5 separate regions of the Homo sapiens genome follow, and regions 2, 3, 4 and 5 are each reported to be linked to region 1. The links are microRNA targets in miRTarBase. Many come from high-throughput screens and were not tested one by one. Region 1 holds a microRNA gene; each other region holds the end of a gene's coding sequence.

Region 1 (4,658 bases):
TATCCACCAGCGCCCGGTCCATCTGTGGGATGACATCTTGGTGCACATGGCAACTTCGGAGAAGATGTGGGAGGACGTGGGGCCCGTGGGACTCTGCAGGATTTTAGGAGGGGTTTCCCTTCGGGGCCCCCTCCTCCTACCTCGTTAAAATCAATATAAGCAATCATCAGTGAATAATCTCTCTTTTGGTTTCAAATCCTGCCCAGGAGGGCTGATAGTCTGGCCACAGACAATGCCAGGATTGCAGAGGCCTGGGCTTCAGTGCCCCATCAGGGAAAGTCCCACCCCACACCACATGCTGACTGCAGGAGGTGTGTGTGTGACCTGGTACAGGGGTGTGGTTTATCCTCGGAAGGGTTTGAGGAGTGTTGTGTGTGTGCAGGACAGGGCAGGCGTTGGGACAGCTGTGGTAGTGAGGGCCACTTTATTCTGTGCTACATGAAGAGAGGCTGTCTGACAAAGCTTGCCATGTGTTTGATGAATGCTACGTGGCCCATCTCTTTTCCATAGGAGGACTTCCTGGACATGAAGCTAGATTCCGGCAGGGCCACTGGTGTCAGCAGCACTCCTGGTGAGTCGTGGATGGGGGACTGAGGAGCTGGCAGCGTGATTGAGATGAGCCCTTCCTGTGTTGGGACCACTCAGAATCCAGCCGCTTCGTGGGCAGCGTTCAGTCCATGCTTGGGGAAAGGGCTTTGTTGCCGTTGCTCATCTCTGTCTGTTGTTCAGCTCTGCTTGCCTTACGAGGCCCCAGATGCCCTGGATGCCCTCAGTGTCAGACTGCGGAAGATGTGTCCCGGCTGTGACACGCGCTTCAGGGGAGGGCTGTTGGCGTCAGGTCCATGGAGAGGTATGGGAGTGGACATCTTGTCTGAGAGCAGACATTCTATTTCGGGTGTGTGTCTTGGTCCGTTCATCCTCAGTCTCCCTCCCATACCTAGGATGGCTTGTGGAGAGAAGGCCTGCCCTGAGGGCTGAAGTTGGGACCCACAGCTCTCACCCCGGCCTTGGTATGCTCCCATGGCTACGGCAGAGGCACAAGAAAGTAATTAGAAACGCAGAAACTCCTTAAGGCCAAGGCTGGGAACTGCTATATTTCTACCCACAGATCATTGACCAGAACAATTACACGGCCGAACCCAAGGCAAGGGGCGGGGAGGCCCACTCCACCCGGGAGGGGGTTGTGGTGAGGTGTGAATGCAGGAACCGGTGAGGATTTGCCACCACCAAGTCAGTTGTCCACGTGGACCACCTGAGAACTTGGGTTTTATTCATTGCTCATTCATCCCTCCCTAACCCGCAGCTTCCGGTCTGCCCCGGGGGCTCTTCTCCGGCTCAGGCTGATCGACAGTGGTGACGCTGTGCCAGGACCCCTGGTCATTCCATCTGTTTGAGGCAAATGTTAAAAAATCCCTTGCGCTACCCATTCTATGACGACTCCCTTGGCTCAGAGGCTCCATCAGGGCAGACACTTTGCTGTTTGTCCCTAAAGGGTGGGTGGTAGATCTCATCCATCTTATCTGGGGAGTTATTGTGACTCTCCTGGTCCCTCCTCATGTATCCTCAGGAGGACTTTTAGGATGCAAAATCACTGTTTCTGTGCCATTGTCATATTCTGTGCTACTGGAGGAGACTTTTTGTTATTGAGAAATTGAACACATCGTGCTCACAAGCAGCTCCAGGACACAATGCCACCTGTGCAGAGGGGGCAGACCTGTTAGATGTCTCCCAGGTCTTGAGGGGGTTGTATGCACGGCCATATCTTTGTCACCGGTTGCCCGGTGCGCATCAGGACCCATGTGCTCTCAGGAAGCCCGCAGGAGTGATACCAGCCGCGGAGAAGCAGTGTTGTCAACGGTGCTGACGTGCGGTACTTAATGAGAAGTTGCCCGTGTTTTTTTCGCTTTATTTGTGACGAAACATTCGCGGTGCACTTCTTTTTCAGTATCCTATTCTGCCTTGAAGACGTCTTGGTTTGGGTGCAACTTCAGGGAAGGCACATGGGCCCCTGTAGTGGACGCTGATCAGGACCTCCCTACCCCATGTCTTTTCTCCTTCCTAAATTTCTCCTTGTTTTTTTTTTTTTTTTTTTTTTTTATGAAAGCTCCCGTCTTCCCGCCGTGTGCTTTGATTGCATTGACCCTGCCCCACTTCCTCCACCAGCCCAGGCTTAAGCGAATCTCTTGATCTCTTCTCCTTTGCCACTGCAATTGCTTCCGGAATAGGCCCATGACCCCACTGGGCCAGTGATAGGCAAGGAGATGCTTGCTGCAGCTTCTGGGAAAGAAACTGTTTCTCCCTTTCCTGTGATAGCTGCCAGAGTAGACACTGTCTATTCCATTCAGCTGGGAATAGACAGTGAACTTTGACGTGAGCTTCGAAGGTCCCACAGCCGTTTAAGGACTGAGAGGAGAGGGCTTGGTGCCACGCAGACACAGCAGAGGGAGTCTGTACCATGAAAGGCATCTTGGAGACCTAGAGAAGAGCCTGGATGATATCATTTGAGTCCCTAGATCAAACCCTGCCTGAAGCTTGCTCTGTCTCTGTACTTTTTAGTTATATACGTCTATAAATCCCTTACTTGTTTAAGCCAGTTGGAGTTAGATCTTATCTTACTTGCAATACAAACAGATGATACCACAGTGTGTTTTCCAGTGTGACTGGGAAAGCCTGCATTTTTTTCAATGATGTGTTTCTCACGGTTTGCCTATCTATCTTCAGTGTCCTATTTAAGGCAGGGTTTTGGTGGAAGGTGACTTTTCTTATGGACTTATGCTTTCAAAGCTTTGTCTTAGTGATTTAATTTATGGTTGACAAATGATGCACAATTACCGTGTTTTGTGTCCAGCAATGGGTCACTGGGTCCTCTCTGGAAGGCCTGATGGATGGTGGGCCCCAGAACTTCTGCCCCGATTCACTCTCCCTCGAATCCACCTCTCTCTGGGAGGCTGCCCTGCAAGTGATGTGGACTTGGGGAAGCCGTTGTCCTTTCCTGGCCCCTGCTGTCCTTTGGCTCTCTGTGGGTTGGCTGTATTTGTCACAACTCACACTTAACTGTCAGTGTTTTAGAACCAAGCCATGCCTCCAGGGAACCCGGAGCACTTTAGAGAGGAGGTGCAGTGGTCAGCACCATGCAAGGTGCACAGAGAGATGGGTCCACCGAGAGCCGGGGCTGCCTTGGTGGTTTGTTTCTCCTGATTCGATATCTTTGTCTTCCCATCTCCTTCCTGGAACCATGGGCTCATGGAGGAGATTCTATTTTTGGGTCCAGGACCATCCCATTTTCTCTGAAGTGATGCTCTCCATGAGCATTTGCAGGGTTGATAGTAAACATTCCGAAAGCCGTCTGCCCTGATTATTGAATTCTGCCCATGAAGACTTCCTGGGATCCCGAAGTAGAGGGAGTCTGGGATCGGTTTGCTTTATCCGTGATGACTGTCCGCCTCTGCTCAGTGTCAGCCCAGCCCTTCGAAGCATGTCCCCCACCTCCCCTGGGGTGAGCCAACTTACCTGATGCTTTTAGGCTTAATTGAGCATAAGTTTGATTGGCAGCGTCTGCCCGGCCCTGCCCTCACGCCCTGACCCTCAGTGTCCCTTCACGCCCAGGTGTGCCTCTGGCAGGGAGGACGTGCTCATCTCTGGTACCTGAAAAGAAGTTGCCCATGTTATTTTCGCTTTATATGTGACGAAACAAACATGGTGCACTTCTTTTTCGGTATCAAATATCTCCTTGAAGTGCCTCCATCCCCGACGGGACCCTGAGCATGGGACCTGGTGTCACTACCTCTCTTGGTATGTACATGGAGGATTTGTCCTGGCAGCCCCTCGGTGACTTTGTGTGTTGGTGGGCTCAGGGACCATGCTCAGTCCTCAGTCCTCAGTCCACGCCCACCTCTCGGACAGGCACAGTTGGCGAGGCCTCAACCACATGCCAGTTCCCCGCTGCCAGGGAGGCTGGGGAGATGCACTTCCAGGCTCCATTGAGAAGCGTTCCCCAACATTTGAGAAGAGTTCAGATCATAGCAGCCAAGAAAAAAATAAAAAAGGAAGCAGCTGCCACAACAACAAAAACAAATAAGCAATGAAGACCCCTGCCCCCATCCGCTCTCTCCAGAGGCTTGAGGGGATGGCTGAAGGGGACATGAGGACATGCCATCTGGGGGACTGCCACCCGCACCTCCACAGAAGAATTGATTGGGGGTAGCAATTGTGGCAGAAGGCGTCCCTGTGGTTCTGGGAGATGGGATTTCTCAGAGTGGTGATTTACTGGAGCCTAATCCTCCCTGCCCCGCTCTTTCTTTACTTTTCTTTTCTTTTTTTCTTTCTTTTTTTTTTGACACAGAGTCTCGCACTGTCTCCTGGGCTGGAGTGCAATGGCACGATCTTGGCTCACTGTAACCTCTGCCTCCCAGGTTCAAGCGATTCTCTTGCCTCAGCCTTCCAAGTAGCTGGGATTACAGGCGCCCGCCACCAGGCCCAGCTAATTTTTTGTATTTTTAGCAGAGACGGGGTTTCACCATGTTGGCCAGGCTGGTCTTGAACTCCTGACCTCATGATCCACACCCACCTTGGCCTCCCAAAGTGCTGGGATTACAGGCATGAGCCAGTGCGCCCAGCCCCCGCCCCACTCTTTCTAGGTGCCAGTTCTGCCTCTGAGA
Region 2 (4,000 bases), not on the chromosome of region 1:
GATATTCGTCCCCCCAACTCTCATGTTGAAATGTGATTCCCAGTGTTGGACGTGGGGCCTGGTGGGAGGTGATTGGATCATAATGGCAAATTTCTCACGAATCGTTTAGCATCATCCTGTTGATGCTGTCCTCACAATGTTGCAGGATTTTTAAGGAATCAGAGAGACCGATGGGGTTCAGGAGAATATTTATTATTTAGGTGCTCCGGCCCAGTCAGATTAACATCCAAAGGACTGAGCCCTGAACAAAGAGTTAAGTTAGCTTTTAAGCATTTCGTGGGGCAGGGGGAGATCTGTGCAGGGGGAAGCATATTACAGAAGCAAGAAACAAAGACAGTTATTCAGTCAAGACATGCATTACATCATTTCTTACTTTTCAAGGAAAAACATGTTTTGCGACTTGAGTTTATCTGTCTAGTGACCTTGCAGCTGCACAGCTAGGGAAACAGGGTCTTCACAATGCCTGGGAAGGGAGGAGAGCTAACACTCACTAGCCACCAGAAAAACAGGCAGTGAATTTTTAAAGGACTCCAGCTCTTTCTCTTTCTCAGGGGGAATTGGGTTTTCTTACGTACAACTGAGTTTCTGCTTACACACTCTTTGATTTCTTTTAATTCCTTTTCTAACAACAATGAGTTCCTGAGAGATCTGGTTGTTTAAAACAGTGTGTGGCATCTCCTCCACCTCTCTCTCTTGCTCTCTTGCCATGTGATGTGCCTGCTCCTGCTTTGCTTTCTGCTATGAGTGAAAGTTCCTTGAGGCCTCCCCAGAAGCCAAGCAATGCTGGTGCCATGCTTCCTGTACAGTCTGCAGAACTATGAGCCATTTACACCTTTTTTCTTTATAAATTACCCAGACTCAGGATTTTCTTTATAGCAACACAAGAATGGCCTAACACACCATCTAACAAGGGATTCATAACCAGAATATATAAGGAACTCAAACAATTCAATAGCAAAAAACCCATAACCTGATTAAAAAATGGACAGGCTGGGCGCAGTGGCTCACACCTGTAATCCCAGCACTTTGGGAGACCAAGGTGGGTGGATCACAAGGTCAGAAGTTCAAGATCACCCTGGCCAACATGGTGACACCCCCTCTCTACTAAAAATACAAAAAAATTAGCTGGGTGTGGTGGTGCACACCTGTAATCCCAGCTACTCAGGAGGCTGAGGCAGGAGAATTGCTTGAACCTGGGAGGCGGAGGTTGCACTGAGTCGAGATCGCACCACTGCACTCCAGCCTGGGTGACACAGCAAGACTCCATCTCAAAAAAATAAAATGGACAAAAAGGCCAGGCACGCCTAAAGTACCTGCACTTTGAGAGGCCAAGGTGAGCGGATCACTTGAGCACAGGAGTTCAAGACCAGCCTGGGCAACATGGTGAAACCCAGTCGCTACAAAAAATACAAAAAAATTAGCTGAGCATGGTGGCACTCGCCTTTGGTCCTAGCTATTTGGGTCATCCTGAGGTGGAATGATCACTTGAGCCCAGGATGTGGAAGCCCAGATCACCTCCAGACTGGGTGACCCCAATTCAAAAAAAAAAAAAATTTAAAAAAAGGGCCAGAGATCTGTATAGACATTTCTCAAAGGAAGACATATGAATGGCCATTAGATATGTGAAAAAATGCTCAACCATAATTAGGGAAATGTAAACCAATACCACATTAAGATATCTCACCCCAGTTAAAATGTTCATTTGAAAAAAAAGAAAAAATAACAAATGCTTGTGAGGATGTGGAGAAAGGGGAACGCTCATCCACCATTGGTAGGAATGTACAGTAGTACAACCACTATGAAGAACACCATGAAGGTTCCTCAAGAAACTACACATAGAATTATCATACAATCCAGCAATCCCTTTGCAACCTGTGTCCATCAACAGATAAATGGATATAGAAAATGTGGTATGTATGGACAATATTATGAAAAAGAATGGGATTCTGTCATTTGTAGCAACATGGATGGAACTGGAGGTCATTAATGTAAGTGAAATAAGCCAAGCCTAGAAAGACAAATATTGAATGTTCTCACTCATATGTGGGAGATTAAAAAATGGGTCTCATGGAGGCAGAGTAGAAAGGTGGTTACAAGGCTGGGAAGGGAAGGGGAGAGTAGGAAATTCAGAAAAGTTAGTTAATGGTTACAAGAATACATTTAGATACAAGGAATAAGTTCTAGTATTTGATAGTACAGTAGGTAAATTATAGTTAACAATAACATATAATAATATACTTATATATACTTCTAACTTGCTATATCTTATTTTGAAATATATAACTATATTTTGAAATATATGTATATTCAAATACCCTGATTTGACCATTATACTTTGCATACATGTATCAAAATAGCACATTACAAGTACATTATCAATAAAAATAATAAAGTTATTTGTTGAATGAATGGCCTGTGGCTTTTCAATTCACTTGTGTGTTTAGGCAGCAAAAAATTATTTCTCCATTTGGCCTTAAGTGGAGACCCACTGGCCTGAATCTTAGGAAGCCTGGGTTCATTTTTATTTTTATGAAGAATGTAAAACATACTTCTAAGATGAGATGCATTGATAAGCTGTTACAGGTTTGAAAATCCTGAATGTTTATGGTAAAAAGCCATTTTGGAAGTTGAAGTGTAAATGTTTTAAATGTTTATTTTTGTAAATACTGAGTTTGTGTTTAACATCTGAGCCTCAGGTACTAAATACTACCTCTTGTCATTTTGAAAATAATGTTGGGTGCAGTGGCTCAGGCCTGTAATCAGCACTTTGGGAAGTGGAGACAGGCCAATCACCTGAGGTCAGAAGTTCAAGACCAGCCTGGCCAACACAGCGAAACAGTCTTTACTGAAAAATACAAAAATTAGCCGGGTGTGGTGGTGGGTGCCTGTAATCCCAGCTACTTGGGAGGCTGAGACAAGAATTGCTTGAACCCGGGAGGCGGAGGTTGCAGCCGAGATCACGGCACTGCACTCTAGCCTGGGTGACAGTGCAAGATTTCGTCAAAAAAAAAAAAAAAAAAAAAGAAAAGAAAATAATGTTAAAAAATGCAGTTATTTAATATAGTGTCTAGCAGACAATAAATGCTTAATAAATGAGTCATTTTTAGCTTTTACTCACATTTTATAATCTCTGCAGGAATCACATTACCTAGTGCAACTACTTCCCCAAAAAAGGACTCTAAGGGATCCCAGAGATTGCATCTAGGAAAAGAGCGTGTGTGTGTGTGTGTGTGTGTGTGTGTGTGTACGTGTCTGTGTGTCTGTGTGTAGTTTAAAAAAGAACAATACATGGCAAAAAAAAAAACCATGAAAGCATTATAAACTTTAAAATTTGTTTACTGAGAATCTGTTTATTAAGGAGTTAACATTTTAGAGTTGGTTCAATACTTTATGGAACTTAAAATCCTGAGTTGCCCCTCAATAATACAGACATCTACAGTACAGGCATTTGTACAAAATACTATAATTACTGGTGCTTAACATTATTAGACTTCTATAACTTCCATTTGTCAGGTAAATAAAACACTAACCTTTCAAAGTTGCTACAATTTTAGGAGTTCACAAATTCCTATTTCTCCAGTTTTTATTAGTACATTTTAAACCTTCTTTGGGGACTGGAAGCCAAACTCCTCAAACAAAAGCCTCAATCTGAACCAACACTGAGAGACAGTAATGTCAGAGGCTCTTTTGTTTTTCACGGAGAGCAAAAATACAGAATATATTTATTAATTTATTTTCCAATAAAGAGAATATACTTTGTATTTGGAGAAAAAAATGCTTAATTGTCAGGAGTTGCTTTCGGAGAATGATCAATAAGTTCCTTGTCAATTGTCTCATAGTAATACCAGGGTCCATCTCCTCTCACATGCATCAATTTTCGCACTTCCAGCTCCTTTACCCTGTAACAAATGGAACAGCAATATTGAGATTCCAGCACTTCCAATTATAAATTTAATGAGCCATTTCCATAAAGGACAATCACTGGAGTCTGCTTTTATGT
Region 3 (4,653 bases), not on the chromosome of region 1:
CTAAAGCCTTATTAGTTCAAAAAAATCGTACTGTATATAATTCCAAGCCTAGTCAGCTTTTTCTTGGTTCTCACAAGGGGAAGTTGAAAGAGTTAAATGAGATGATTATTTTGTTCCTCTGCCTTCATAGAGGACGAGTCATTTCCCCCTTGGAAGTAGGCATGTCAAGAATTGTGCTATATCCTTCAAAAATTGTTGCAAATATGTCTGGGATTTGCTACAAATTAAACTAGTAGGGGAAGGATGCATCAAAATAAGCTAATCAGGTGTAAGTGGATGAAGGGATAAGTGAGGAAGAATACAAACGAAACAAGATTAGCCATAAAGTGATAATTGTTGAAGCTGGGTGATGGCTATATAGAGGTTCATTATATTTTTCTATTTTTGTACACGGTTTTCTGCAATTAAAGGGATATATATCTTTAAGAGAAGTTCAAGGTTCAAACTAAACTTGTGGTTGTCATGTAAGAGACAGGAGCAGTTGAACTTAAGGGCCCTATCTGTGTAAGAGTTCCCAAATACTATCTTCTCCATCATGGCATAAGCAATTTAAAAGTGACAATTGGATAAATCCATCTACACATATGACCCTGAACTGTTCTGGAAAAATGATTTTTCAGTAATTCCCAATTTTTTCTTTGTCTTGTGAAGGTACTTTGACTTATAGATCTACATTCTAGGTGGAATCTGTCCTGGTATGTAGGAAAGCCTTATGCCAGGAAGTTCATGTCTGCTCTACCTGGGCTGGCATTTTCTAAGCCCAATATACAAGTAGAAGAAAATCCATATACTTTTCTCCAGCCCCACTGTAACCATGACAACTAGAGTAACCACTTAACATGGCTGCATCGTTCAGCTCCTCTACATTTCTTAGAGCCTCCAGAGTGATTTTCAAAACATGTAACAGCACTGTTTTCCTTAACTTTTCCCAAGGACTTCCCGTTTCAAACTTCTCATAGGTCTCATCTCTTTTTTTTTTTTTTTTTGAAACGGAGTTTCACTCTTGTCACCCAGGCTGGAGTGCGATGGCGCGATCTCGGATCACTGCAACCGTCTCTTATCACTCCCACTTGCTAACCATTGTCCAGCCAAAGCTTGTTGCATCTCAGGTTGTTTGCACCTGCAGGTTTCTCTGCCTTGCTCTTCCACAAGACCTTCATATGGCTAGCTCCTTCTTGCGACTCATATCTCAGCTCTAATGTCATGTCCTCAGTAAGAATTCCCTCTGTCCACTCACCCACAACTATCTGTTTAAGCAAAGTAATTAACATGTGGCAGAATTACAGCAGGTGCTTTTGTCTACCACCTTATTACTCATATGGTGGCAACACATGGGAACTTAATAGGAATGCAGAATTGTAGGCCCCACCCCAAATCTATTGAATCAGAATATGCATTTCAGCAAGTTCCCTAGGTGAGCCTCTACAGACTTTAGATTTAAGAAGCACTGGTCTAACATGTGAGGCTGATATTTTCCTTTTCTGCTAGTGATTAATTAATAATTAATAATTCAACTGACAAAGAGTCTTAACTAACAGTGCCATATATATAGAATTATATGAAATGCTCACTGGTTTGAACATAGAAAGTTATTTTTATGCTCATTTGCAGAAATCTTTGCCAAATACACACAACAATACTTTTCCTTTTGAATGTATATTGGGAACATAATTAGATGTATTCACTGCTCAGGATTGTGTCATTTAAGCAAGTTAAGAACTTTTAGTTTTCTCTCTAATATGAAATCTAAGATCTTAAAATGGACACTTTTATTTATAGTATTTCATTATGATTTTAGCAAATAACATACATTCTTAAGAAATATGCATTACATAGTCATCGTAACTGTTTAAATTCCTAGTTCATGTTGTTGTTCATGAACAAAATTCAACAAGACATTAAAGAAAGGACCAATCTGCCTAAGTAACTCTGAAGTGAAGTCTTTTAATAAAAAATATGGAAACTTTAAATAAACTTATAAAACCATTAAGTGCAATAAATGCTTTTTATTGTATGCTCATTTCAATGAGTAACATTTAGAAATAATAATCCCACATAACAGTAGCGATCTTATTTTACAGCGTGTACATCATTTACAGCCACATAACACACAATTTTAGTAGATATTCCAAATTTAATATTCTGAAGTTAAGAAAGATAAAAAATTTATTCTCAAGGAACTGATTCTTATCTGGTGCAAAAACAGAAAGGTGAACATTATTTGAAACACAAAGCCACAATATAGCATGAAGTAAAATTACATTTTAATTATGTTGAACAGCTGAATGTAAACATGAAGCAACTAAAACTTAAAAGTACATATCATATGCATTACATTTATGAACAGGATTTTCATAAAATTTCCCTAAACCAGCTTTTAATATTAAGTGCCATTTTGATTTGCAGCATGCTAACACAAAGCGTTGTTAAAGGGATGCATATTTTAAGTTTATACACTGTAAACTAAATATCCACCTCCAAACTCTATTGGCAGCAGATTGCTCTGTTAAATACTGCATAAACACTGCCTCATATTGAAAATGCATGTTAATCATATGGTATATAGATTTTAAAAATCAATTTCAATAATGGCATAAAATTGCACCTTTAAACATTAGAGCAAGTAAGACTAGAACAATCATACTTGCTAAGACTGTCCTAAAAAAACTCTAGACATTATAATATTTAAGAAAACTGTGTTCTCTCAAATTAATCTTTAGATCATTAAGAAATATAGTGCTGATTTTGTTTGCAACGCTAATGTTGCATCCATTTTAGAAAGCCACATTTGACTCAAATATACTTTTGTCATATATGCCATACTGAACAACAATCAACTTGAACATCAGAAAAAAGGGAACTTTAATCTTTATAGACTTCACCTTAGATCTCAGCACAGAATGCTATATTTTAAGTATCCTATCCTGTGATAAAATATTAACAGCTCTGAATTCTTTTTTAATAGTACTGAATTAATCTAACCTGTTTTCCAGTTAGTTTTCTTTTAATGAATACACAAAACTTTTGTCATTGCTGGAATTTAATTTCCAGGTACAATATAAAAGGCTCAATGACTAAGTGACTGATGAATGACCACATTTTGTTTCCCTGCCCCATTTCTAAAATTGCATAAAAGTGGGTTTGCTTGCTATAGCAAAGCATCACTAAACTCAATTATGTATTCTCTTCTCAGAAACATTTGTATCTAACATAATCAGCCAAATAAAGTATTTGTCTTTGCTTTTCCCCTCTGTAGTTTAAGTATGCATATAATACTATTACACAGATACTTAAGAAGTTTTTCTGTAACCATTCTATAGTGCTTCTTAAATTCTTTAAGTAATTTTCAAAGGGCTATGGGATCCCCTGTGAATTCAAATATTTTAAGATCTTTAATACAAAGAATGTAAAGTCATGGTTTAGTATCAAGCTTTGAAACCCGGTGAGACAGTTAGTGAGAGTTTTCTCCCAAGTAGCATATCATATCTCCTAAATAGCTTCTTTCTTTATATTGATCTTATTACATAAGAGCCTCTTTGTGGTGCCTCATAATATGCTGATTTTTTTCTGATGGTCTTCGGAATCCCTTCTTGCAGAATTCACACCTGTGTGGATAGTCTTTTGTATGTATTGATATCACATGTCGTTTAAAGCCAGATGCATCTGTAGTGCTGTATTCACAATACTCACATTGGTAAATCTTCCTTCCAGTATGGGTCTTCATATGTTTTTTTAGCTCATTTTGTTGTCTGAATCCTCTCTTGCACCTTTTACATTTCAATGGCTGATCTTTAGTATGAACTGAAAGGATATGGCCACTAAGAATAAATGGATCGGATGTTTTAAAGTCACAGTGCCTGCACTGATGAATCTTCCTACCCTTATGGATATCACTATGCTTTTTGAGCTCAGAAGGACGATGAAAACCTTTATCACAGACCTCACATTTGTGAGGAAAATCCTTAGTATGGACAGATATGATGTGCCGCTTAAGGTCACTTGAATTGGTGCTCTTATGGTCACAATGAGGACACTGGTGTGTCTTATGTCCTTGAAACAAATCCAGATGGCGTTGAAGCTCCCTCTCATCACCAAATGCTTGGGGACAATGCTCACATTTATATGGCAAATTGTTACCATGTTTAGACTTAATGTGAGTTTTCAGATTTGATTGATCTGCACACCTGAAAATACAATACTGACACTGATATGGCTTCTCACCAGTATGGGTTCTCATATGTTTCTTGAGTTCAGAAGGATGTCGAAAACCCTTCCCACACTCAACACAAACATGAGGAAAATTCTTGCTGTGAACGGCCAACAAATGCCTGTTTAACAGTCCTTGTTCTGCAGTTTCATAGTCACAGTATTTGCACTTGTGCATCTTCGGCTCCTTGTCTCTTAAAATAAGTTTATTGGAACTCAGTGGACTAGCCTCTCTGTATCTTCGTGTGTATTCTGTAAATTCATGGGTTTTGTCGACTTTGTTTATGAGCTTATGGCTTTCTAAGTGGTTATGGAAACTCACTTTCTTGTTAGTTGTAAAGTCACAATCTGTACACTGATATTTTTTTCTCATTAAATGATCAGGATGATTCTTCATGTGTCTTTTTAAGAATCCCCTGGATTTAAACTTTTTTGTGCAAATATGGC
Region 4 (4,658 bases), not on the chromosome of region 1:
TAGCAAAGTTTCTCCCACTTCATTGTAAGACTTCCCTTACATCAAATAAGCTTCAAGAACATGTGTAGAAAATAAAAGATACCAAATAATGTTTGAATGTGTAATTACTACATTCTAAAACCAGCCAGACTCTTCTAAGACTTCTAACAACAAACCACTTCCAGAGCCATTTTAGAAAATGTGTTTACCCAACTCCTTTTTTATTGGTTGACTCACGTGGAAGAGATGGGCATTTCCTTTCCCCAAATGGGAATTTACTATGCCTACTCCATATTTCTTGAAAGCTGTCATTTTGAAAAAGAGGAATATGAAAAATATTAAAAGACAAACATCTGACATCACTGTCGAAGACTATAAAATAATGTAGTAAGTGAAATTGGTTTTCACATTTCAGTACTGCTTTAAACTCTGATATTTAAGAACTAAGTGTTTCTCATTTAGTTCTATCCATGATCTCTTTCAGAAGTCAACCACCTCCTGTGTAAAAGCCTCATAGAAGCCACTGCCTTCTGAAGGAAACACACCAACTGGCAGGGGGTCAGGGTAAGCCAGGAGTCACACCCAACTACCACTGCTCACACCCAAGAACCCCACCCTACCCTGGCCACAAAAACTGTGCCTAGACTCCAGCACAGCCTGCAGCTGTGTTTCAATTATAGCTGTGTTTGTAATTATAGGTCATGTGCCTTCTCCCCCACCCCAATCACTCCACCCCAATCACTCCATTTGGCTAACAAGTGACCATATTATAACACAAAAATGGAAAACAAACTGGAATGCTCGAAAAAGTTACAAATAAAAACGGTATGAAGGCATATTAAATTTTGGCTGATACTTCCCTTTGATTTTGCTAAACTATAGCAAAGGCTGGCTCAATGTTGATTTTTACTGAAGAGTATCATTAACTGAAGAAAGAAAAAAAGACATAAACAGTAGTGAAATAAAGAATAGGCAAATACACCAGAATTATGAATAGAAGCCATTTTAAAGAAGAGAAATATTCTACAACAGATGAAGAAAGTTTTAATTTCTTTTCACATTAAACATTGTTTACCACAATCAGCTAACAGAAATTACTGTAACATTGGTCACGATGACTTCATAAAACTAAAGATAAATGTTATGAGGAAACTTCATTTAACGTGAATGGTAATGTTAGATACTGTATTTTTCCATGGTAAAATACAACTTATCTTGAAGAGAAAGCAAATAGTTCAGATCAGGGAGACATGCTGAGGTTTTAATAAAGAAAAGCTTGGCCTTGTCCAGAACACTTAACAAAGTTCAGGACAATTTAGGTAAAAGAGATGAGTGAGACACCAGCGTTAGGCAGGGACATAGGCTCATCATTCAGGCTTTATGTACATTACTGGATCTATGCAGCTCTCACCTTTAGATAAGTGAGCTATATTTTTGGCAGAGGGATCTTCAAAAGTAGCCTTGGATATGAGGAATCGTATTTTAACCACCAGGCAGTCCAAGGAATTATTTTTAAAGGGACAGCTGAGTATTTCACGTATATACTATTAAGGCATCTAAATTTTTGGTGTTTTCAGTATATAATTTTACTGCTACTTTTTATTCTTTTTTTTCATATTGTACAACTATGATATTAGGTATTAAGCGACGTAATTCTTTCTCTACTAGTGAACCAGTTTATTTCACTTAGCAAACTCTAAATTGAGGGAAATATATAATCTGAGAACACACAGAAAAATATATTGAAAAACCAATAGAGAATTATTTTTAACCATCATAAAAACTCAATCTTAATTAACTGATAGTCTTTAACTTAAAAAAAGAGTAATCAGAATGAAAATAGGTATTAAAAATAATTACCAGTAGTTTGTTTTACAAAATAGAGCCATAAATTGTTTAATTGCCCAATTAAGCAACTACCAGATTCTTTAGTCAACACTAACAGAATTCACATTTCAGCTAGTCAACAAAGCATATAAATATTTAACATCTCTTGAAGATAACATTTTAGTGATAACGGAGACTACATAATTCTATCCATTGTTGTGACTGTCCACAAATTAACCAGGTTAAATATCAAAGATACATTGGGAATACTCCCCAAAACAACAACAGAATATTAATTAAATGAATTTTAAAAGCTTAAGAAATGAAAGTAGAAAACATGAATGAGACGGTGCTTAAACAATTATTGACCTAATCAAGACCTTTAAAATTACCACCAAAATGCACTATCATTTTTTTTTTATTTAGTTTACAGGAAGAATCTGTAAGTACAGGTTGCAGAAAGAAAACGTTTAGTGCTATTTACATTCATTTTAAAACTCTGCTCTATACAAATTTAATTCTGATCAGTATGAACAATATTTTCGTAGATCTACTGCATATAAAGCCTTTTCATCAAAGCATTAACAATGAATAAAATAACATGATTACATTTAAACAACGCTGACCATTTGAAACCATTTACATTTAATGTTTGTAAGGGCTGTTGACACTTAGTACAGAATGTAATGTCAGCCTGCAACTTCATTTTTATAAAGGCTAAACTTATTTATATGGAATATTGTTCTGTATACTACGCGCCAATCTATATTTTAAGTCCTGTAGTTAGGTATTTTATAAGTCTTTTATTAAATATATTCTACACATATTTGTAATTTCATCCAGGAAGAATTTCTTCCCAGTGAAAAAATATAAAAATCTTTCATATTTTTACAGGTTTAGATGAAAGTAGCTCATGCTTTAGTGCTGTGCAAATTGTTTTTAGCATATCAATCTTTAAATTATTGGTATGAAATAAAAGAAAAAGTGGCATTCTTGTGTATGCCATAAAAATCAGCTTTTGACTTTAATACAATTGCAAGCACTAATATCAAACGCAAACTATATAAAGAAACAAAATTAGTACTATGGAGTTTTTTTTTAATTTTAAGAATTCATCTGAACTCTAAGGAGTAAGCATGACACTGGATGTGGTTACAAATTAATGATAATTATGGAAAATTTCAATTTGCTGATATTCAAATACATAAAATTGATCAATGAGGTTTTCTAATATTTCTGCACAATAATGAAAGCCGATGAGTGACTGAAACTACCCTCCCACATTAAGGCTAGGAGACGCACTCTCACCCCTTCTTGTGCTGTCTAAACAAACACTCAGTTACTGTAGGACTCAAGAGTGCATGTCTTAAAGGAAAAAAAATTAGTTTCATCAGCCCTCTACTGAGTGCTTTAAACAGGCACATTTTGTTTTTTCATTTGTTGCAGTGAAAATAGTCACACTCAGTTTAGTATTCTGTGCCAGTGCAGCCACCACGGCTGACTTTGGTAGAATTCACCCAACATTTTAGTTTCTTTTCCATTTTTTCCTCTCAAGTTGGCCCAGTAATTAACTTCATTAATTGCTGAGTGTCTTCCAGTGTGGAATTGTATATATAAGTATTTCTAGATACCACACACTGTTATAAATTCTGCTGATGAGGAAAATAATGCCAATCTTTTTAATGCAAATTGTATTTGGAACACTTGATTTATTAGTTCTGATGATGAAAATTTTGTGGCAGCAAAATGGTTTCTGCTACGAAAGATAACTTGTTAACTTTTCCCCTGGAGATTGACTGCATTCAAAAACCAATATGTGTTAAAACAGCTCAACAAAAAATACAAGAAATAAAAAATCAGAGTGAAAAATGTTCTTGGTTCTTTTTACTTTCATGAGAAAAGATGACAGTGTTCATGTGGTAATTCAGTTCCATGTGTTTACAGGCAGACTGTTCTGAACGGTTTCTGAAGCAATGTCGGGTCTTTTCTGTCCCAGCAGCATGAAAGACAAAGACTATATCACATCACACTAGGCAGACAGTGTTTACAGGATTACACAACAATTACTCTCTCCAGTCTTCTCACGATTCCTCTGACCTAGGGAAAACGAAGAAGAGCCTCGTTTATAAAAATTCTAGAACTGGAGGGGAAAATGGGCTAGGCAATCAAGTGTAGGAAGTAGTAGTTTTGAGTTTTTAAAAATGTTTGCATTTTTCAAAATTAAGAAGCTGTAATAAATGTTCTTTTAATTTTAGCATGTTTCAAAAATGTCTGGTTATTTGCTTGACAATCTCTATTCATAAACTATGCAAACTTCCCTTCCCTCAGCATATCCAAGAAAAACCTAGCATTTTTGAATGCCTGTCTTTGTGCCTCAACTGAGATACTTTTCCAGTGCATGGCTTACCTTGAGAGTTTGGCTCTGGTAATGTCTCTCTGGCCACCAAATGCATCACTGTTGTTTTGCCAAAAGGAAGTTTTAATGCTATGTGAAAAGCAAAAGATGATTAGTTACACATATATCGACCTATTAAAATCACTATCCAGATTTAAAACCATTTTAAAAATTGATTGCTTTTTTATGACTTCTTTAACAGATTCAACTTAACTCAGAGTACCTTCACAAAATTAGGTTAATATTATCAGAAATAACATTTAAAATTTAGAAATTATTTTTTGCAGTTATATAGCCATTTGCTTGACACATTTATCCATATTAAGAGATGATATAAGAAAAAATATGTAATTGGCTAATATCAGAGGCCACCTTTAGAGGAGAAAGGATTAAATTTTTTTTAAAAGAATACTCTTTTCTATATTAGGTAAAAGTTTAGATTAAGAGATATTCATTT
Region 5 (4,658 bases), not on the chromosome of region 1:
ATTTTTCTCTAAAATAGGCAATCTCAAGAGTAAAATATCTTTTCATTTTAATCAAGAAAGCCGAGAGGTAAGGGCTTAGCAGGCTTCTCTTACTGTACAAGTTTCAGTGGATGTATGAAACTTTTATTTTCGTTGCAAAAGGTTTTATGACATTTAAGTCTTATTGGGACATTATTTTTAGTGACTGAAGGGCTTTGAACAAAGGCTTGTCAAGCTCCAATACTGAATGGTTCCATTGTGATTATTTATAAATCAGTTTTATTGTCAGTGTTGAGGTAATCAGAGATTAGCTCATGCCTAAAAGCATAACTAAAAAAATAATGACCCACTGAGAAACAGGATTTTGTTGAATTTTTCTCCTGCTACTTTATCTATAAACAATTTGCAGCCATCTAGCATTGAGAAAAGCTCTCTTAGGTAACATGCTAATCTTGTGCCATTCATAAAAAGCATCAAAGAGAACATTGTTCTTGATTTACCTGCACTGAAAATATATTAATGCTTGCTAATTTGGAATAATAATAAAGATCCTATGAGTAAGCTGTCATTTTTAAATTGACCCCCCAAATTACATGGGGCTGTCAGATGTCAAGAACTTGGGGCTTGCATTCTATCTACATTACACTGTCCCTGGATATTTTTTCGGACATGTGGAGACTAGCCTGAAATAGCACCCAATCATATCAGCAAGCATTCTCCATTTAAGAGAAAATAGAGACACTTTACCTCTGTTGAATTATGATATATGGTGGTTTTCATGGAATCCAGAACGATGAAGCAAGTACTTTTTCTCAGATAAGACTGGCAAGCTGGATGAAGATATGACTAAGTAACTCAGCACAGATTTTCTGAGTTACATAAATAAATGAAGCGAGCTCTACCACCAGCAGCAATTTGTCTCAAAGGGCATTAGTAAGCTCTCTGAAGTAAGAAAAGGCAACAGTGGCAAGAAATCATGTACTTCCTCTAAGTGTGATATACTAGAGAACATCATAGGATAATAATAGAGCTGGTTCAGCCTTTTCCAGGACAGATGTGTGATATTTTCACTAAGTTATGGACAGCACAGTGTTCTCTTAATGCCATCATAAAATTTAGTGCTAAAGGGACCTCAAGGTCCCTGAGAAGGCACTTTGACGGGCAGCTTTGCCAGGTTAAGAGTCCTATAGGCAGGTAACATGAGCAGAGAGGAGGGCACAGCACGGGGTCCATTGGACTCCACATCTCACGTCACACAGTTATGATTAAGACTTCTGAGGCCAGGTGCGGTGGCTCACACCTGTAATCCCAGCACTCTGGGAGGCCGAGGTGGGAGGATCACTTGAGCTCAGGAGTTCAAGACAAGCCTGGGTAACATGGTGAAACCCTATCTCTACAAAAAATACCAAAAAAACAAAAAAACAAAAAATTAGCCAGATGTGATTGCATGTGCCTGTAGTCCCAGCTACTCAGGAAGCTGAGGTGGGAGGATGGCTTCAGGCTGGGAGCGGAGGTTGCAGTCAGCCAAGATCATGCCACTGCATTCCAGCTTGGGCTACGGAGCGAGACCCCCGTCTCAAAAAAATATATATAAATAAATGAAATAAAAAAGACTTCTGTCAAGATAATTCAGTGAGGTAATGGATACGGCTGGCCCATGGTAAGTTCTTAATATGTGTGTGCCCTTAACCTTCCTATTTCTGTTGAACTGAATTTTTCAACCTTATCACTTCTCCCAATATGTGAGATTTCTGTCCTCTGGGCTACAAAGAACTCCTCATCCAAATATGGGAAGTTAGGAATCTTGTCAGCTTGGAGATTTTCCCCAGCTATTCCTCTTAGAACTCACCTATCCCAACCCCCCAGTGTTTGGTCATGCTGAACTGATGGAAGGAGTCTGCACTAACTAGAGCTTGGCTCACTGAATCAGCCGACAACTCAATCTGCCTATTAGGATAATCTAAGACAAAACCTTGTCTTTATCATCAGATGTCCTAGAGCATCAAGGTAAAGAAGTACAGGACTAGGATTATGGGTTGCTCTTTTTATTTTTATTCAAATAAATACAATACTTATGTATAGCCTGATTAATTTCCCTTGTCATATCTCTTTTTTCAGGTTTCAGGCTTAGATTTTTAGTTGTGCCATGCTATGGTCACATCATAACTGTTCTCTAAGTTGAAACAAGTATTTCAACAGGCAAATAGCAAACTCGCCAAAAGACCTGTGGGTCACTTGCCCAAATGAGGCCTACTGAGATGAGAACAAACATCTTTTTTTGGTAAAAACTCTATTTTTATAGTGTATCTTTGGATATAATGCAATTGTTTCTTCCCCTTCTTTCCCAGGCCAGGCACTTGAAAATAAGACATTTCAGGGATGGGCAACCCACTCCATTAACATCCACTGGACTCAATTTCCCAAGAAAATTAAAACAGTGTGAAAGAACACTGCATTTAGCATTTGGCATTTCAGTTAATGAGACTGATAATGACTGAAATATTTTTGATGTGCTAGAAGTCAATTCAGAAATGTAGGACTGGAGAAATTTCATTTGTTCTAAATGAGTCTTGCTTCCCCTGAAATTCCGTCTTTAAGCAGTAACTTCTTTAGTTCGAAATTAGTCTGATTAATATCACCTTTATTGGGAAGAACTATTATCCTCTCTGTGGCTTGGCCTCTGGTATCTACGTATATTAATTTAAATAAAAGTATGGCTTCAACTGATAATTGATGGTTCAGCTTACAAGGAACTAGTTTAGGCAGTCACCCTTCTTACATGAAGCCAGTTAGGGCTAATGCAACCTGTATGGTCAACTTCAGTTTAAAAATCTTAATTCTCATTGTAAGAAAGCAGCCAAATATAAAGCCTTGAGGCAAGTGGGTCTATGGAGTGGCAGATTTGGGAGTGTGGGGCCAGGGCCACGCTGCTCATGCTAATACACCATCAGTACAAACAGTGGCCCAGTTTTGACTTCCTCCAGCTCCAAGAGTCACCTCTGCAGAGTGGCTGTGGCATCTGAGAGAGCAGGGCTGGCACAGAGCCCCTGCCCTGCACGAATATCCCTGTGGAGTCCCCGGGAGGACAGAGGCAAGCCCTGCTTCTTAGCAACTTTCCACACTTCCTGCCTCTGATCCCACTTCCTCTGTAAAGATGCTATTTGGCTCAGCAGCAACCCAAGGGAGTGGGAATAAGGCTTGGTGTGTTGAGAACTGCTCCTGCCTCCTTTTGACAGCCAAGGCTGGCAAGGTTGTTTGGAAATCTGACAAAGAGCAAGTCTACTTTCTACAAGCAAAAAATCCCAACCACTTCACAGTCACTCCATTAAAGTAAAACTAAATCTCTCTGAAAAATAATATGCTTTGAAACCCTCTGTTACATTTATAAAAAGAAAAGGAAAAACAAAAAATTTCAAAGTTAAAAAAGAAACCTTTAAAAATATTGTAGCAATAGCCTTCTTCGTAACAAATATAAAACAGCTTAAGACACTTGGTGACTTTCTTAGTTCATCTGTGGGGGAATGGATACACAATGAGGTTTTACTACTAAAGTTAGCTATTTGGTAAAAACTCTAGGAAGAGTTCCATCAAGAAAATGGTTATTTTGGAAAGACAAGTTATGATTATTTCCAAAATGTCAAAAGAAATAAGAATGTAAACACCATATACTTAAAATGTTAATACAATAATATTAACTCAGTCAAATAAATAAAAGAAAGTGGCACCAAATTTATGGCAATTTTTCAAAACAAAAATGTAGCTTAAATATATTTTAAAATAAATAATTGGTTCAAATACGGACGACCATTCTCAGCACAAACTAACAACATTCAAAATAAAGTGCTATGAGAAAAAGTAGCCCCACAATCTTCAACTTATTCACATATGAACAGAGATACTATCTGGATCTTTAGGTCTGAAATATTCACCACGAGTGAAAGCTAGAGGCCAGGCTTAGGGCCATCTTTTGTCATTTTTCTTTTTTCTTCCAGCGTGTGCTTAAATATTTTCTTCAGGGTGTTGTAAACTGTTGGTCCATTTTCAGAATCAAAATTAACCTGGTGACAAAGAAATTTATATTCAGGACACTGTAACAAGAATTTGAACTAGTTTCTATTTTGAGAGAAGGAGGGGGTGGAGAAAAAAAACAGACTTACAAACAAAACTCTATATAAAATACACATAATAAATTTCACACATTTTATTTGAAAGACTATTAGAACTGCCAACCATGTCAATATCAAACTTATGAATGAAAACCCCAAAATTAAATCTAGTGCCTGGATATTTAGTCTAATTATATACACCCAGTCATGAAGCAAGTCAACAGTGGGTGTGAAGTGAATTTTTTGAGACTAATCATTGATGGTATAAGAGAAAAGTTTCCCATATTAAAACAGCACATCAGCTGTATACGTCCTGCTGAGAGGCCCTACGGCCACTCTGGACAGGGTCAGAGTGACCTGAATAGAAGCCCAGCTCCCCACCTGCCAGCTACATGTCCTCATCTCATACCCAACCTCTCTGGACCTTGATCTCCTCCTTTGTAAAACAGAGATAATGATACCCACCTTCATAGGATAGCGTATCTATGAGTCTAACATGTTTGGCACATATATACAAACCTCAACTGGCTGGGTGTGGTGGCTCATGCCTGTAATCCCAGCACTTTAGGAGGC

What was found. Region 1 holds the annotated microRNA hsa-miR-543 (AAACAUUCGCGGUGCACUUCUU, at 1,918-1,939, shown strand). A microRNA usually pairs through its seed, bases 2 to 8, with sites in the 3' UTR of a target mRNA and lowers its output. Matches are read on the target gene's strand: a 7mer-m8 pairs with bases 2 to 8, a 7mer-A1 pairs with bases 2 to 7 and ends in A, and an 8mer does both.
Region 2: miRTarBase lists NDUFB5 as a target of hsa-miR-543. Seed matches in the 3' UTR shown: 7mer-A1 at 3,478-3,484 and 7mer-A1 at 3,363-3,369.
Region 3: the mRNA of ZNF711 is a reported target of hsa-miR-543. Seed matches in the 3' UTR shown: 7mer-A1 at 2,031-2,037.
Region 4: miRTarBase lists UBL3 as a target of hsa-miR-543. Seed matches in the 3' UTR shown: 7mer-A1 at 1,980-1,986 and 7mer-A1 at 1,080-1,086.
Region 5: miRTarBase lists PTPDC1 as a target of hsa-miR-543. Seed matches in the 3' UTR shown: 7mer-m8 at 3,805-3,811.

What each region holds. Positions count from the first base shown.
Region 1 is chr14:101,030,116-101,034,773 of GRCh38, forward strand. It overlaps MIR543 (microRNA 543), which reads left to right and starts at 1,872; the gene lies at 1,872-1,949. LOC124903407 (mucin-2-like) reads left to right here. Exons shown (of 5, transcript XM_047432049.1): 5 at 1-4,367. MIR495 (microRNA 495) reads left to right here and starts at 3,640; the gene lies at 3,640-3,721. MIR1193 (microRNA 1193) reads left to right here; the gene lies at 1-14.
Region 2 is chr3:179,623,819-179,627,818 of GRCh38, reverse strand. NDUFB5 (NADH:ubiquinone oxidoreductase subunit B5) reads right to left here. Exons shown (of 6, transcript NM_002492.4): 6 at 172-3,899. The coding sequence ends at 3,779. Among named protein-coding and RNA genes, the nearest start is that of NDUFB5, 21 kb to the right of the region's middle.
Region 3 is chrX:85,270,696-85,275,348 of GRCh38, reverse strand. It overlaps ZNF711 (zinc finger protein 711), which reads right to left. Exons shown (of 11, transcript NM_001330574.2): 11 at 1,992-4,653. The coding sequence ends at 3,521. Among named protein-coding and RNA genes, the nearest start is that of ZNF711, 29 kb to the right of the region's middle.
Region 4 is chr13:29,763,405-29,768,062 of GRCh38, forward strand. UBL3 (ubiquitin like 3) reads right to left here. Exons shown (of 5, transcript NM_007106.4): 4 at 4,214-4,291; 5 at 967-3,903. The coding sequence ends at 3,851. Among named protein-coding and RNA genes, the nearest start is that of UBL3, 85 kb to the right of the region's middle.
Region 5 is chr9:94,107,207-94,111,864 of GRCh38, reverse strand. It overlaps PTPDC1 (protein tyrosine phosphatase domain containing 1), which reads right to left. Exons shown (of 9, transcript NM_001253829.2): 9 at 2,012-4,037. The coding sequence ends at 3,921. Among named protein-coding and RNA genes, the nearest start is that of PTPDC1, 25 kb to the right of the region's middle.